Regions from separate parts of the Homo sapiens genome. Here region 2 is linked to region 1. Evidence: fine-mapped expression QTL. Tissue or cell type: whole blood. Region 1 holds a variant in brackets; the other region holds the start of a gene. All regions are shown on one strand. Distances are between the middles of the regions.

The links. PIP is the estimated chance that this variant, and not a neighbour inherited with it, causes the effect.
Region 2: C10orf88 starts here. The variant in region 1 is fine-mapped to the expression of C10orf88 in whole blood (INTERVAL, PIP 0.97).

Annotation. Positions count from the first base shown.
Region 1 is chr10:122,923,839-122,931,827 of GRCh38, forward strand. It overlaps C10orf88 (chromosome 10 open reading frame 88), which reads right to left. Exons shown (of 6, transcript NM_024942.4): 6 at 7,063-7,989. Among named protein-coding and RNA genes, the nearest start is that of FAM24A, 17 kb to the left of the region's middle. The variant T/C (reference allele first, on the strand shown) is at 3,302.
Region 2 is chr10:122,949,697-122,956,130 of GRCh38, forward strand. C10orf88 (chromosome 10 open reading frame 88) reads right to left here and starts at 4,531. Exons shown (of 6, transcript NM_024942.4): 1 at 4,319-4,531; 2 at 3,133-3,336; 3 at 2,258-2,330. The coding sequence starts at 4,482. LOC124902519 (a long non-coding RNA gene) reads left to right here and starts at 4,746. Exons shown (of 2, transcript XR_007062325.1): 1 at 4,746-4,872. RefSeq lists a silencer at 4,247-4,326.

The DNA.
Region 1 (7,989 bases):
CACAAACAAGACCAGACTGTGAAGACTACAATCAATACCTAACTCTTGAATACTCAGACACAAACAAACATCCACAAGCATCAAGACCATCCAGGAAAACATGACCTCAGCAAATGAACTAAGTAAGGCACAAGGAATCAATCATGGAGAGACAGAGATATGTGACTTTCAGACAGAGAATCCAAAATAGCTGTTTTGAGGAAATACAATGAAATTCAATATAACACAGAGAAGGAATTCAGAATCCTATTGATAAATTTAGCAAAGAGATTGAAATTATTTTAAAGAATCAAGAAGAAATTCTGTAGTTGAAAAATTCAATTGACATACTGAAGAATGCATCAGAGTTTCTTAACAACAGAATTGATCAAGCAAAATAAAGAATTAGTGAGCTTAAAGACAGGCTGTTTGAAAATACAAAGAGAGAGGAGACAAAAGCAAAAAGAATGAAGCATGCCTACAAAATCTTGAAAATAGCTTCAAAAGGGAAAATCCAAGAGTTATTGGCCTTAAAGAACAGGTAGACAGACAGGGATAGAAAGTGTATTCAAAGGGATAATAAAAAAGAACTTCCCAAACCTAGAGAAAGATATCAATATTCAAGTAGAAGAAGGTTACAGAACATCAAGCATATTTAACACAAATAAGACTACCTCAAGGAATTTAATAATCAAATTCCCAAAGGTCAAGGATAAAGAAAGGATCCTAAAAAGCAGCAAAAGAAAAGAAACAACATACAATGGACTTCCAGTATATCTGGCAGCAAGCTTCTCCGTAAAAATATTACAGGCCAGGAGACAGTGTATTTAAAATGCTGAAGGAAAAAAAAACTTTTATTCCAGAATAGTATATCAAGCAAAAATATCCTTCAAACATGAAGGAGAAAGACTTTCCCAGACAAGAAAAAAAGCTGAGAAATTTAAACATGAAACCTGTCCTATAAAAAATGCTAAAGGGAGTTCTTCAGTCTGAAAGAAAAGAACATTAATGAGCAATAAAAAGTCATGTGAAAGTACAAAACTCACTGGCAATAGTGAATACATAGAAAAACACAGAATATTACAACACCATAACTGTGACATGTAAACTACTCATATCTAGAGTAGAAATGCTAAAATATGAACTGATCAAAAATAATAATTACAACAAGTTTTCAAGACAGGCAGTACAATAAGATAAAAATAGAAACAACAAAAAATTTAAAAGCAGGGAACAATGTTAAAGTGTAGAGTTTTATTAGTTTTCTCTTTGTTTATGCAATCAGTGTTGACATCAGTTTAAAATAACGAGATATTATATTATTTGAAAGCCTCATGGTAACCTCAAATCAAAGAACACACAACAGATACACAAAAAATAAAAAGCAAAGAATTAAAATGTGCCACCAGAGAAAATCACCTTCATTAAAATGAAGACATTAGTAAGAAAAGAAGGAAGAGAAGACCACAAAACAACCCAAAAACAAATAAAATGGCAGGAGTAAGTCCTTACTTACCAATAATAACATTGAATGTAAATGGACTAAACTCTCCAATCAAAAAACATAGAGTGGCTGATGGATTAAAAAACAAAAACAAAAACAAAAACAAGACCAAATGATCTGTTGCCTACATGAAACACACTTCACCTATAAAGACACAACATAGACTGAAAATACAGGGATGGAAAAAGATATTCCATGCAAATGGAAACAAAAAAGAGCAGAATAGATTGATGCAAAAAATATATTTCAAGACAAAAACTATAAAAAGAGACAAAGAAGGTCATTATATAATTATACATGGATACATTCAGCAAGAGGCTATAACTACTGTAAATGCACCTCACACTGGACCACTGAGATATACAAAGCAAATATTATTAGAGGTAAAGAGAGAGATAGACCCCAATACGGAATAATAGCTAGAGACTTCAACATCCCAGTTTCAGCACTGAACAGATCACCCAGACCAAAAAAAAAAAAAAAAAATCAATGAACATTGGACTTAATCTGCACTATAGACCAAATGGACATAATAGATATTTACAAAACATTTCATCCAATGGCTTCAGAATATACATTCTTCTCCTCAACACATAGATAATTCTCAAGGATAGACCTTATGTTATACTACAAAGCAAGTCTTTAAAAATTCAAAACACTTGAAATAATATCAAAGTAACTTCTCTGACCACAATGGAATAAAACTATAAGTCAATAACAAGGGGATTTTGGGAAACTATACAAACACATGGAAATTAAACAATATGCTTCTAAATGACCAGTGGGTCAATGAAGAGATTAAGAAGGAAAGTGAAAATTTTCTTCAAACAAATAATGAAAACACAACATATTAAAGCCTATGGAATATAGTAAAAGCAGTACTAAGAGGAAAGCGTATATCTTTAAGCCTACATCAAAAAAGTAGAAAATCTTCAAATAGACAACCTAACCATGCAAGTTAAAGAATTAGACAAGCAAGAGTAAACCAAACCCAAAATTAGAAGAAAAGAAATAATTAAGATAAGAGCAAAAATTAATGAACTTGAAATGAGGAAAACAAAAAAAATCAACAAAATGAAAAGCTGGTTTTTTTAAAAGATAAACAAAATCACCAAAACTTTAGCCAGATTAACCGAAAAAAAGAGAGAAGAACAGATAAATAAAATCAGATATGAAAAAGGAAATATTACAACTGGCACTGCAAAAATTCAAAGGATTATTAGGGGCTACTATGAGCAAATATACACCAATAAATTGGAAAGCCTAGAAGAAATGGATAAATTCCTAGACACATACAACCTACCAAGATTAAACTTGAAAGAAATCCAAAACCTGAAAATGTCTGAACAGACTGGTAAAAGTAATGAGATCAAAGCTGTACTAAAAGGTCTCCTAGCAAAACAAATTCCAGGATATGATGGTTTCACTGCTGAATTTTACCAAACATTTAAAGAAGAACTAATACCAATCTTACTTGAACTATTTCAAAAGATAAAGGAGGAAGGAATACTTCCAAACTCTTTCTATGAGGCCAGTAATACCCTGATACCAAAACCAGACAAAGACACAGAAAGAAAGAAAGAAAGAAAGAAAGAAAGAAAGAAAGAAAGAAAGAAAGAAAGAAAGAAAGAAAGAAAGAAAGAAGGAAAGAAGGAAAGAAAGAGAAAGAGAACGAACAAACTACAGGCCAGTATCACTGATGAATATTGATGCAAAAATTCTCAACGAAATACTAGCAAACTGACTTCAACAACACATTAAAAAGATTATTCATCATGACCAAGTGGGATTTATCCTACGAATACAAGGATGGCTCCA[T/C]GCACTTAAATCAATCAATGTGATACATCATATCAACAAAATAAAAGACAAAAATCATATAATCATTTCAATTGATGCTGAAAAGGCATTTGATAAAATTCAACATTCCTTCATGATAAAAACACTTTAAAAAACTGAGTATAGAAGGAAAATACTTTGACACAATAAAAGCCAAATATGACAGACCCACAGCTAGTTATCATACTGAATGGGGAAAAACAGAATGCCTTTCCTCTAAGATCTGGAACACAACAAGGGTGCCTACTATCACTACTGTTATTCAACAATAATTGAATAGAAGTACTATTGAAGAGGTACTAGAATAGGTACTATAAGTCCTAACTAGAGTAATCAGACAAGAGAAAGAAATAAAGGGCATTCAAGTTGGAGAGGAAGAAATGAAATTATCCTTGTTTGCAGATGATACGATCTTATATTTGGAAAAAACCTAAAGACATCACCAAAAAACTACTAGAACTGAAAAACAAGTTAAGTTTTAGGATACAATATCAACATACAAAAATCAGTGGCATTTCTATATGCCAATAGTAAACAGTCTGAAAAAGAAATCAAGAAAGTAATCTGATTTATAATAGCTACAAATAAAATACCTAGGACTTACACATGGGCTGCAAGAGCCAGAGCTTCCTGATTCCCAGCCTGGGAGCAGAGAGGGATGCTCAAGCTCAGGCCAACCACGCCCTGCCCTGGACTGACTTCATCCACCAGAGTCGGCTGCCACTTCTTCAGAAAGTTCAAGAATAACTCACCCCTTACTTAGCATATAATTAGGCACAGGCATTAATATAGCTAGCCAGCAGTCCACAAGTGCCACTCTGCCTATGGGATAGCTCTGCTGGGTCTATGGAGCAGCCATTTCACTGTACATTGTTGCTCCCATAAATGTGCTGTCTTTCACTGTTGGCTCACTCTTGAATTTTTTATTATACTTTAAGTTTTAGGGTACATGTGCACAACATGCAGGTTATTTACATATGTATACATGTGCCATGTTGGTGTGCTGCACCCATTAACTCATCATTTAGCATTAGGTATATCTCCTAATGCTATCCCTCCCCCCTACCCCCACCCCACAACAGGCCCCAGTGTGTGAATTCTTTCAGCTGAAGCCAAGAACCCTCCCAAGCTAAGCCCCCATTTGGGATTTCACCTGTATCAGGATGATGAGGAGACTTCCACTCCAGTTTTCTTTCCAAGGCCCAGAGCCGATGATGTCACTCTCTTTCTTAAACATCATGCGTAGTTCTTCAGTGATTCCCTGGCACCAGGAGAAGCAGCTTTCAAAGTCTTCCCATGGTATTGTTTCAAAACTAGTTATGCACCACATAAGGATGCTCCAGTCAATGACGGACTGCATATATGATGGTGGTCTGTTGTGCCAAACCCCTATAGACTCCTGTGGAGATGGTACCAGGTTCAAGAGGCCTAAGAGACCCAGAGCCAGCAAATGAGACATGGGGTTTTTTTAAATGGAGAAATACTATCTTAACACAGAAGAATCCTTAGTTTTAAAGGTCAGGAATCTGAATTCTGACATTGCATGGGACAGAGGGAATGGCAAATGCACTCAGTGATAACTGTATGTTGGCTACATTGAGTCATTTTCTCCACATTACTTAATATCTGATACTGAATGTACTGAGCTTGATAGATGTTTTGTTTTTAAGGATAAGTCACAATTAAATAGAAACTGTTTAATAATTTATCTTAGGTGAAAATGATCCTGGTATACAAGAAGTCCTGTGATGCCTAGCTTTATATCATTATTTATATGGACTACGAAGAATTATAATTCTGGTTTATAACCAACTATTTTTATGTCAAAACAAAACAAAAAGAAAAAAGCCATGAGAAGACATGGAGGAAACTTAAATGCATATTGCTAAGTAAAAGGCCAAACTGAAAAGGCTACAGACCATGATTCCAACTATATGGAATTCAGGAAACAGGAAAAACATGGAGATGGTAAAGAGAGCAGTGGCTGCCAGAGGGATGAATAAGTGGAGCATAGAGGATTTTTAGGGCAGTGAAACTAGTCTATATGATACGATAATGGTGGATACATGTCATTATACATTTGTCCAAATCCATAGACTGTACAACACCAAGAGTGAATCCTAATATGAACTATAGACTTCAGGTGATAAAGATGTCAATGTAGGCTCGTCAATTGTAACAAATGTACCACTCTAGTGAGGATGTTGATAGTAGAGGAGGTTATGCACACGTAAGGATAGGGAATATATGAGAAATCTCTGTAACTTCTCTCAATTTTGCTATGAACCTAAAATGGCTTTTTAAGTCTTAAATCAAGAAATTAAACGTATTAACTTCTATAAACACATTCACTACAAAGACTTGCATAATGCATCTTTAAGTTTGAAAACAGTTGAACATTTGTGAATGTCAATATGCAAACATCCTAGTAAAATACTGTTTTCCAGTTTCAAAGAAGGACACTAATTTCCCTGTTAATCAAATGTTTTGACAACTATGAAAAATACTGACCCTTAATAAATGACCCTGCATGGCTCCTTAACTCTAACACCTTTTTTTCTGTAAAGACAGGGCCTCACTATGTTTACCCAGGCTGGACTCAAACTCCCTGCCTCAAGTGATCTTTCTGCCTCAGCCTCCCAAAGTGTTAAGATTATAAGCGTGAGCCACCATGTCCAGCCAGACTATGATACTTTAATTTCACAAGTTTTCTACCTCACACTGGGAAGCCAAACTAAATTAGCCACTTGAAATAGAAATACTTTTAGGGGCCGGGCGCAGTGGTTCACGCCTGTAACCCCAGCACTTTTGGGGGCTGAGGTGGGTGGATCATTTGAGGTCAGGAGTTCAAGACCAGATTGACCAACAGTATTTTGTACTAAAAATACAAAAATTAGCCAGGCATGGTGGTCTGCACCTGTAATCCCAGCTACTCGGGAGGCTGAGGTAGGAGAATTGCTTGAACCAGGAGGCAGAGGTTGAAGTGAGATGAGATCGCACCACTGCACTCCAGCCTGGGCTACAGAGTGAAACTCTGTCTCAAAATAAATAAATAAATAAATAAATAAAAACAAATACTTTCAGGGATATTTTGTCTTTGATTTTTAACATAAACACTAAGCTAATTCCAATAACAGTTCCTCTGTTATGCTGGCACTGTTCCAAATAACAAATGCAGAGTATGTAGAGAAATCACATATTTATCAAATTTCAAATTGCCAAATATTACTCTTTAAGATGATTGTGATCTTGCTTCCCAATTACTTCATCATCAGATACATGCAGAAGGAACTCAGAATTGGCCTTTGTACTGTCTGCCCCTAACTTCATTCATCATCCTTGCTTGGAATACAGTAATTGCTACCACATCATAGTGAGGCACTTTGTGAATCAATGAACAGACCACAACTACCAGAAGATGCAGGACTATTAACTAATGCAGGACTATTAACTAACAGATTCAAACTTGAGACAGACTTCTCAATGAGAACAGAGATACTATCTAATATATGTTATGAATGTCCCATAAATAATGGCCCTTCAAGGACTATCAAAAGGGATATGCAAATCCTGACATTACTATGGTCACAGTTTGTTCCATATACTGTGTCACCTTTGTAGTATGATAAAAATGAACAAACAACATATAAATTAGCCCTCCTTTTGTTACCAACAAAGCTGGTCCTCCAAAAGATGGGGTCTTTCCCTGATGGGTGTCACAAAGCCAATACGTGAAACCAAAAAAGAGTGACAAACACTGCAGGTTTTATTCAATCGCCACTGAATTGAGAAGCAGGAGTATGGCTCACAAATCAACTTTTCAACTAATGAGGAGTGAGGGGGTTAAAATATAATTTTTCTAATAAAGGTGTTTCACATTCAAGCAAAGGGAGGAATATTCCTGGATTTTTCAGAAATGGGCAGTGAACTTCCTAAAACCAGAGTGCTGCCTTCCTTTTTGTCCTTTCATGGCTTCTTCTGGTCACTGTCATGGCGATTGTCAACTGTCATGGAGCTAGCAGGAGCGTTATTTAGCACAGAAATAAGATTATAAAAAGGCTGAGGTCTTTTTAAAGTCGTTTGGTCAGCTATCGTGGTTGTAACCAGTCTCCTCTGGACTGGTTACAAAAGGAACTTTTCATCACAGGCATCCTGTTTCTTAAAGATAAGCAGAGTTAGGGCAGGGTAAAAATTCAGCTATGTCACGCAGGAATTACATCAGGTAACATTTTTAAAGAAGAAATTTGCCAAAATATTAAATGAGTATGAGATACCCTTTTTCTAAAAAATAAGACATTTGAAGTAAAGATTAGTTGAAATAAAACAGTTCTACTAACTAAAGACAAGTAGTTCCCAGAGCAGGTGCATTTATTTTTATATGCAAATATATCACCCTTCAATGCATATACAATAGTTATAAGGTCTGAAAACTAAGTCTATCAGAGAGAATTGCAATCCCTTGACTCATATGTGTTCATCCTTCCATGGAGAGCCTCATTATTTCATACAATAAACATGCCAGAAAAGGATTCTGGGGAAAAAACCTGTATCAGCTCAAAAGGAGAGGTTTTCTTAAACTGTCTGGGGTTACTGAGGTCAAACAAGATGACTGCATCTGTTTTACAGGAAAAATCAAATCCAAAGTACTAATCGTAACAAGGACTAGGCTA
Region 2 (6,434 bases), 25 kb after region 1:
TGGAAACTGTGGAAAGTGAAACTGCAGATAAAGGAGAACTGCTATATACCAATCTGAGACCTTAACACACCACAACTTGCTACTTAACACAAAATAAGTCTGTCCAAATGCTCATGTAAAACGTTTACTGAAATAAGTAAAATGCAATCCTTTCAAATTCAGAACTATAAGAGAATATCAAAATGATGTAATATAGCTTGCTGGATTACACATAGAAATGATGACTTCAAGGGTGATTTTTCTAACTTGTTAAAGGACACTCAATTAGTAAAGAACCAGCTTGAAACCTATCTCTTCTGGCTTCTATCCCTGTAGTTTATCCAACATTTTATCCTGTCCATATTTCTGAAACGAGACATTTCATGTATGGTACAGACAACAGAGTAGCAAAATGGAAAGGGAACGGACTTTAGAATCAGACAAACCTAAGTTTAACTTACGACTCTGGTACTTAACAACCTGTGTGACCCTGGGCAAATGCTAAATCTGAGTCAGGATAAAAATGAGAGAAGACAGTAGCAATGATTTCACATAGTTGTTGCGAGGATTATATGTTAAAATTTCCAGTAGCTACCAGTAAGTAAGTGCTCAAAAACCTGTATAAGTAACCATTTTTTTATTTGAACTTCCATATACTATTGCCTCAGAACAAGCTTTCATATCAATCCTAGAGCTTCCCTGAAATAACCCTTTGCACTCCCATGTACCTCCATTGAACAGTTAAAAAAACATTCACCTTCAGAGAGACACACAGGTCCACATGTCAAACAAGGACATAGGTCAATACAGACTCATGATCCAAGAACTCTTAAGTGTTGAACCAAAGATGTGACTGTCTTCAACATTTTAAGGAAACACTCTTATTAACCTCCTACCTCTCAACCTCTCTATTATCCCCCTTTCTCTTTTTAACCCCATAGCCTTTTTCACCATTAAATATAGTATTTATTTTACTCATTGAGTCTCCTTATTGTCTGTCTTGCCCACTAGAATACAAGCAACATAAGTTCAGGCATTTCAGTTTATTTTCTTATTGCTAATTCCTAAATGACTGGTATAGTACCTGACATTAAGAGGCACTCAAATCTTTGTTGAATGAAGAAATTACTTTATTCAAATGGTTTTAGAAGCTATTTAATATATACTATCCAAAACAACATCTTGGGATAATCAGTCCTGTGAGTTTGCTATCTGCCTGTAAAAATCACTTATTTTTTCTTATTGTAAAAATAGGTTTCAATCTTCTATAAGTAATGATAATAAGTACAGAAGTTTAGAGATAAAAAGAATCCAAGAATTTTCTTCAGCTCTCTAATTTTACCCATGAGATAGGTCCAAAATCTGCCCAAGACTAATCCACTAGTCAGGACAGAACTGAATTAGCATTCAGGGCTTAAGACTTCCAATCCATTACCTTATCCCTAGACTCTGAAGACATAACTAACAGTTACCTTAACAATATTTTTCATGCTGAAGACAACAGTCCAATCCCTTTAACTTATTGGTTCTCTTGCTTGAAACTTCTCTAATTTTGTTCTTTTATAAATGGGTTTTTGCCATCACAGTTTATATAGTTTTTAAAAATGTTTTTTGCTCAATTTCCCAACACTTCAAAATACACAGCACTACCATATTAACAATACATTATCCAAGGTTAATAAATAGTCAAATTTTATTTTTATTATTTTTTTAGTGAGATGGGGTTTCACTCTGTTGCCCAGGTTGGTCTTGAACTCCTGGGCTTGAGCAATCCTCCCACCTCAGCCTCCTGAGTAACTGGGATTATAAACATGTACCACTGCACGTGGCTCATGGTTAAATTTTAAGAGAAAAAGTCTACTCACTGGTCACCGGGTGAAAAATTTAAAAAAAAAAAAATTTCTTAATTCAATGTTAAAAAGGGCTGATAATTTTTTAGAAAAGTAATTTCTTTGTACATGTTTACTAAGTATTTCTGAGCCTCATCTCTACTAAAAATTTAAAAAATTTGCCAGGCATGGTGGTGTATGCCTGTAGTCCCAGCTACTTGGGAGGCTGAGGTAGGAAGTTAGCTTGAGCTGGGAGATGACGTTGCAGTGAGCCATGATTGTCCCACTGCACTCCAGCCTGGGCAACAGAGCAAGATACTGTCTTGAAAAGAAAAAAAAAAGCAAGCAAGCAAGTTGGACTAATTGTATTACTAATCCAAAAGAAAACAAGCATACACAGAGTACAAAAACAACTTAGTTGTCAAATTAGTTTACAACTGACAACTTACCTTTATTTTACAAGCATGTGTGGAGGACTCCAATTTTAGATTTTTTTTATACAAAATGATCTTTTCATGTTCACTAAAAATAAAAAAGAATTAATTTTTTTTACTTACATATATTGTCACTTTTAATAGTTACACTTAAAAATAAATGTTTCCAGAACAATATTGAAATCCTAAGATTCAGTTTTCCTGGTGAGGCATGAAGAGTTGGGCTCCATAACTGAAGCACACTGCCTATGATTACATCTACCACTTACTAGGCTCAATGAGAAAATTACATTATATAACATATGTACAACCATGTAGCCAGACTGTATTTTAAAGCTCAATAAACACAGCAATTGTTTCCAACATGCAGGATATAAAACAGTTCATATTTTGTGTTAAAGACAGATTGGAGAAAAATCTTCGTAAGAAAAAAAATCACAAGTTGCGTTACAGGTTAATAAATAGGTTTATGTAGCACAGTCTTAGATCCCTCCACCATTTCTAATAGGCTTCCAAGAAGAAAATGTATTCAAAGTTCCAGACTGACTACCAAATTAACTTTCGGAAGACAGACTGCTGTGAGTTTAAGGAAAGAGACACACTTCTCAAAATTTCATTCTAATAAAACTCTTCCACTAACTAGCTATGACCTCCTACCAATTCACCTTGATTGTTAGTTCTAAATTTCAACATTTATAAAAATAACTAGGCTGATCTACACTGTCTTTTAAGATCTCTAAAGTTGTAAACTTCTATGCCTACTGGCACATTTTTATCTTCTCTCCCATAACATATGGTATCAATATCAGAGAATCAATAATTATTGCAAAAAGTGAGAAAAATCAAAACACTACTTCAGAAGAACACTTTCCCGTGTACAAGTCACACACCTGTCATCCAGGACAGTACAAACATTCTTGCCCCTACTGGTTCCACAGTACTCCTCTCCTAAGTACACTTCCATATTTCTTGCTGAACTTAAAATGCCAATAGAAGCGATTTCTTCACCTCCATCAGGGCCACACCTCAGGTAAAGGAAGCAGGGGTTTTCATCTTTGTTGTTGTGGTTTCTCTTCAAAATCACCAGATCCTGACTGAGAAGAAAATTGGTGAAAACATCACACAGTATAGTTCTCTGAACATGACTCTTCTTTTTTGAGACGGAGTCTGGCTCTGTCGCCCAGGCTGGAATGCAGTGGCTCCATCTCGGCTCACTGCACGCTCCGCCTTCCGGGTTCACGCCATTCTCCTGCCTCAGCCTCCCAAGCAGCTGGGACTACAGGCACCCGCCACCGCGCCCGGCTAATTTTTTGTATTTTTCGTAGAGACGGGGTTTCGCCGTGTTAGCCAGGATGGTCTTGATCTCCTGACGTCGTGATCCGCCCGCCTCGGCCTCCCAAAGTGCTGGGATTACAGGTGTGAGCCACCGTGCCCGGCCGGGGCTTCTTTCTTCTAACTCACTTCCACTTGCCCTTGAGGTCCAAGCACCTTCCCAAGCATCCAAGAAGCGCTCAACACAGAATTCATACGGAAATGAAGGTGTCACACATCAGGGCTTTCCCAAACTCTATTTTTTCCTCAATCAACATTCTACTCAATCCCCTGCAATTGACTCTCGGATAATTACATAAATCACTGGGCACCTACTGGGTGCAGGGCACAATGAAAGACAAAAGTGTATCTTTTTCGAAATTAAGTCGACAGCGATCATCTATAGCTGGACTTTTTACACAGCCTGTTTTGGTGGACAGGAGGTGTCTTGTTTGAGGGTAGAGGGGCGGACTGACTTTGACAGCAGCCCTGAGGGGCTATCACGCCTGATGGGGACGTTATATGAAATTCCGAGTCCGGGTCACCTTCCCCCTCTCACGCCCAGGAGCCTCGGCCCCTTCCCGGCCGGACCCACCCCCCTCCGCCCACCCCGGACGACCTCGCAGCTCCCCTCCCCAACTAGAGACCTGGTACCAACTGCTCTCCCGGATCCCGGGCTCAGACCCTCTCGCCTCCCCTCACAGCTCCCCTAGAAGCGCGGCAGTTGCCGAGCATAGCGACCCCGTCCCCGTCGGCCCGGCGCACCCTGGAGCAGGCGGTGCCAGCAGCTCCTCCCAGTCGAAGTCACCGGGGCCGAGACCGGCCCGGGTGAGGAGGAGGCTGTGGGTCAGGGCCCCGCCTGCAACATCCCAAGAAGAGGCCAGCGTGGGGCGGCGGGTGAGGCCCCCGTCCTCGGTCCGCGTCTCCATTCCGCCGCCTTCAGTCAGGCCAGCCCAGCCCCGGAACCTCTCTTCCAGTGCTTGAATTTCCGCCGGTACAGCGTGGAAATGGGCAGGCAAAGCGACTTCCGGCTCACTCCGCTTCAAGTACCCGCCGCTTCTTGCTTTGGTGGGGAGAGCAGGCACCAGAGACACGCATGCGCATGTGCCAGCTGGCCTCAGGCGCGGCGTTCAAAGTGTGCGGGGAGGAGGTCGAGAGCGGAGCATGCGCACTGGCAGACCCTTGCTCTTTCGCTGGAGACTATGCGCAGGCGCGGTGCACTGCGCGCCGGCACGAGGGTGTTTTCGACGTTGGCTGTGGGGAAACAGCAAGCGGCGTGGACGACCGTTGCTGAGCTGGTGTGGAACGTCTGTGATCAGGTAGGTGTAGTCTCGTCGCTCTACGCTGCGTGCAAGACCGACTCCTGACCTCGTTCTTTCCCAAGGGGACGCCAGGGCCTTTTCTGCTTCCATTCCGTCGGATCTGCAGCATTTGTGGCAGCTAGCGCGGCGGACGCGCTGCCGATTCGGGTTATTTTTACTTCGAATTCTCCTAGCCTCCCTCACACATATTCTCGCTTTAGAGGGGGGCTGAAGCGGATGATGGGGTTTTGGGGTTGAAGGGCATCTGTGATGGGCATTGAGCCACGCTGGCCTTCGCCGGGTGCTGTCTCAGCTGACGCCCCCTGACCCCATGTGCAACCCTCAGGCCGCAGGAACCCGGGCATCCAGGGCTGGACGCTCTAGGTGACAGAAATTTGAAATGCAAGAAAGACCCAGACACCGAAGGCAGGGGCTGCCCCATGAGATCGCTCCTCATGGCACTGGAAACAGCGAGTGGAAAGGGGGGGTCTCAGAACTCTGTTGAAGTAGAATATGAACTCAGTCTTGAAGGAACTTAAGGCTACGGATGCAGAACAGTGGGAGCAGATGGAACTTTCTAGATGCCCCACGGGATGGGACTGTATATAGTGTGCCCCCTCATCCTCCTCCTGTAGAGGCTTGTGCAGATTATTTTTCTGTCTTTTGAAAAAAGCAAACTCTGAAATTCCACTTGTCTATAATCTAGAGTTCCAAAGTTGTGTTTAAGGTGGTATCCTCTCTAGGAAATAACGTTTTTGCTCACCCATACTCTAATTTTCTTTCAGAGCTGTCTATTCTGGGTTCATGACTCAGTGCGCATTACTTTAATCTTTTTGCTTATGTTTTCGTTTGAGTTTATGTACTAGGACTTGTGCCCTCTAGCTAAAAATGAGAATAAACTTTGCATTCTGTTTACCTGTGTCAAAGCAAGAAAAATGATGACCAAATGTATTTTTCTATAAGTAATCACCAGAATGTACGTATGGTAGGTGAATTCACCAAGATTGAAAGAGAGAAATGTCACCAAAGGTCTATCATAGCAGAATTGTAAAGTCCTCGTTTGCAAAGATTTTTTTAATATTTCAGACTCATTCTAAGTTGTCCTTGTCATTATTTTTGTCCTGTATGTCCTGCTTCCTGTGGTTGTAAGTTAACTTTGATCCACATTAATACATGTGGACAATCCGAAGGAAAATAGGCTCTTCAGAAACTAATCTGCAATTTCATGAGCAATAGCAATATTATAAACTGGATTTTGACTTCCTTAAATAAAGCTGAATGTCCAGGAATCAGAAAACAAAAGATTCCTATGGTCTATCCTTTCCTTTATTTCCATACAGCCAATAAACCACCAAGTCTTCATTTTCTTAAAGAAAAATTTTCCTATCTCTGCTTCTTCTGTTTCCAAGCACTAGCTTTATCTGAACAATTCCAGGAGTTTGTCAGTAGCTTTCATTTTGATTCCTTCCATTTCAGTCTTTGCACTGCCCTCTTCTCCTTCTGGTGATCAATGTTCCTGACTGAATCAACACCTTCACTCCTTAGCATAGCATGCAGAGTCCTTTGTACTTTGAACCCTG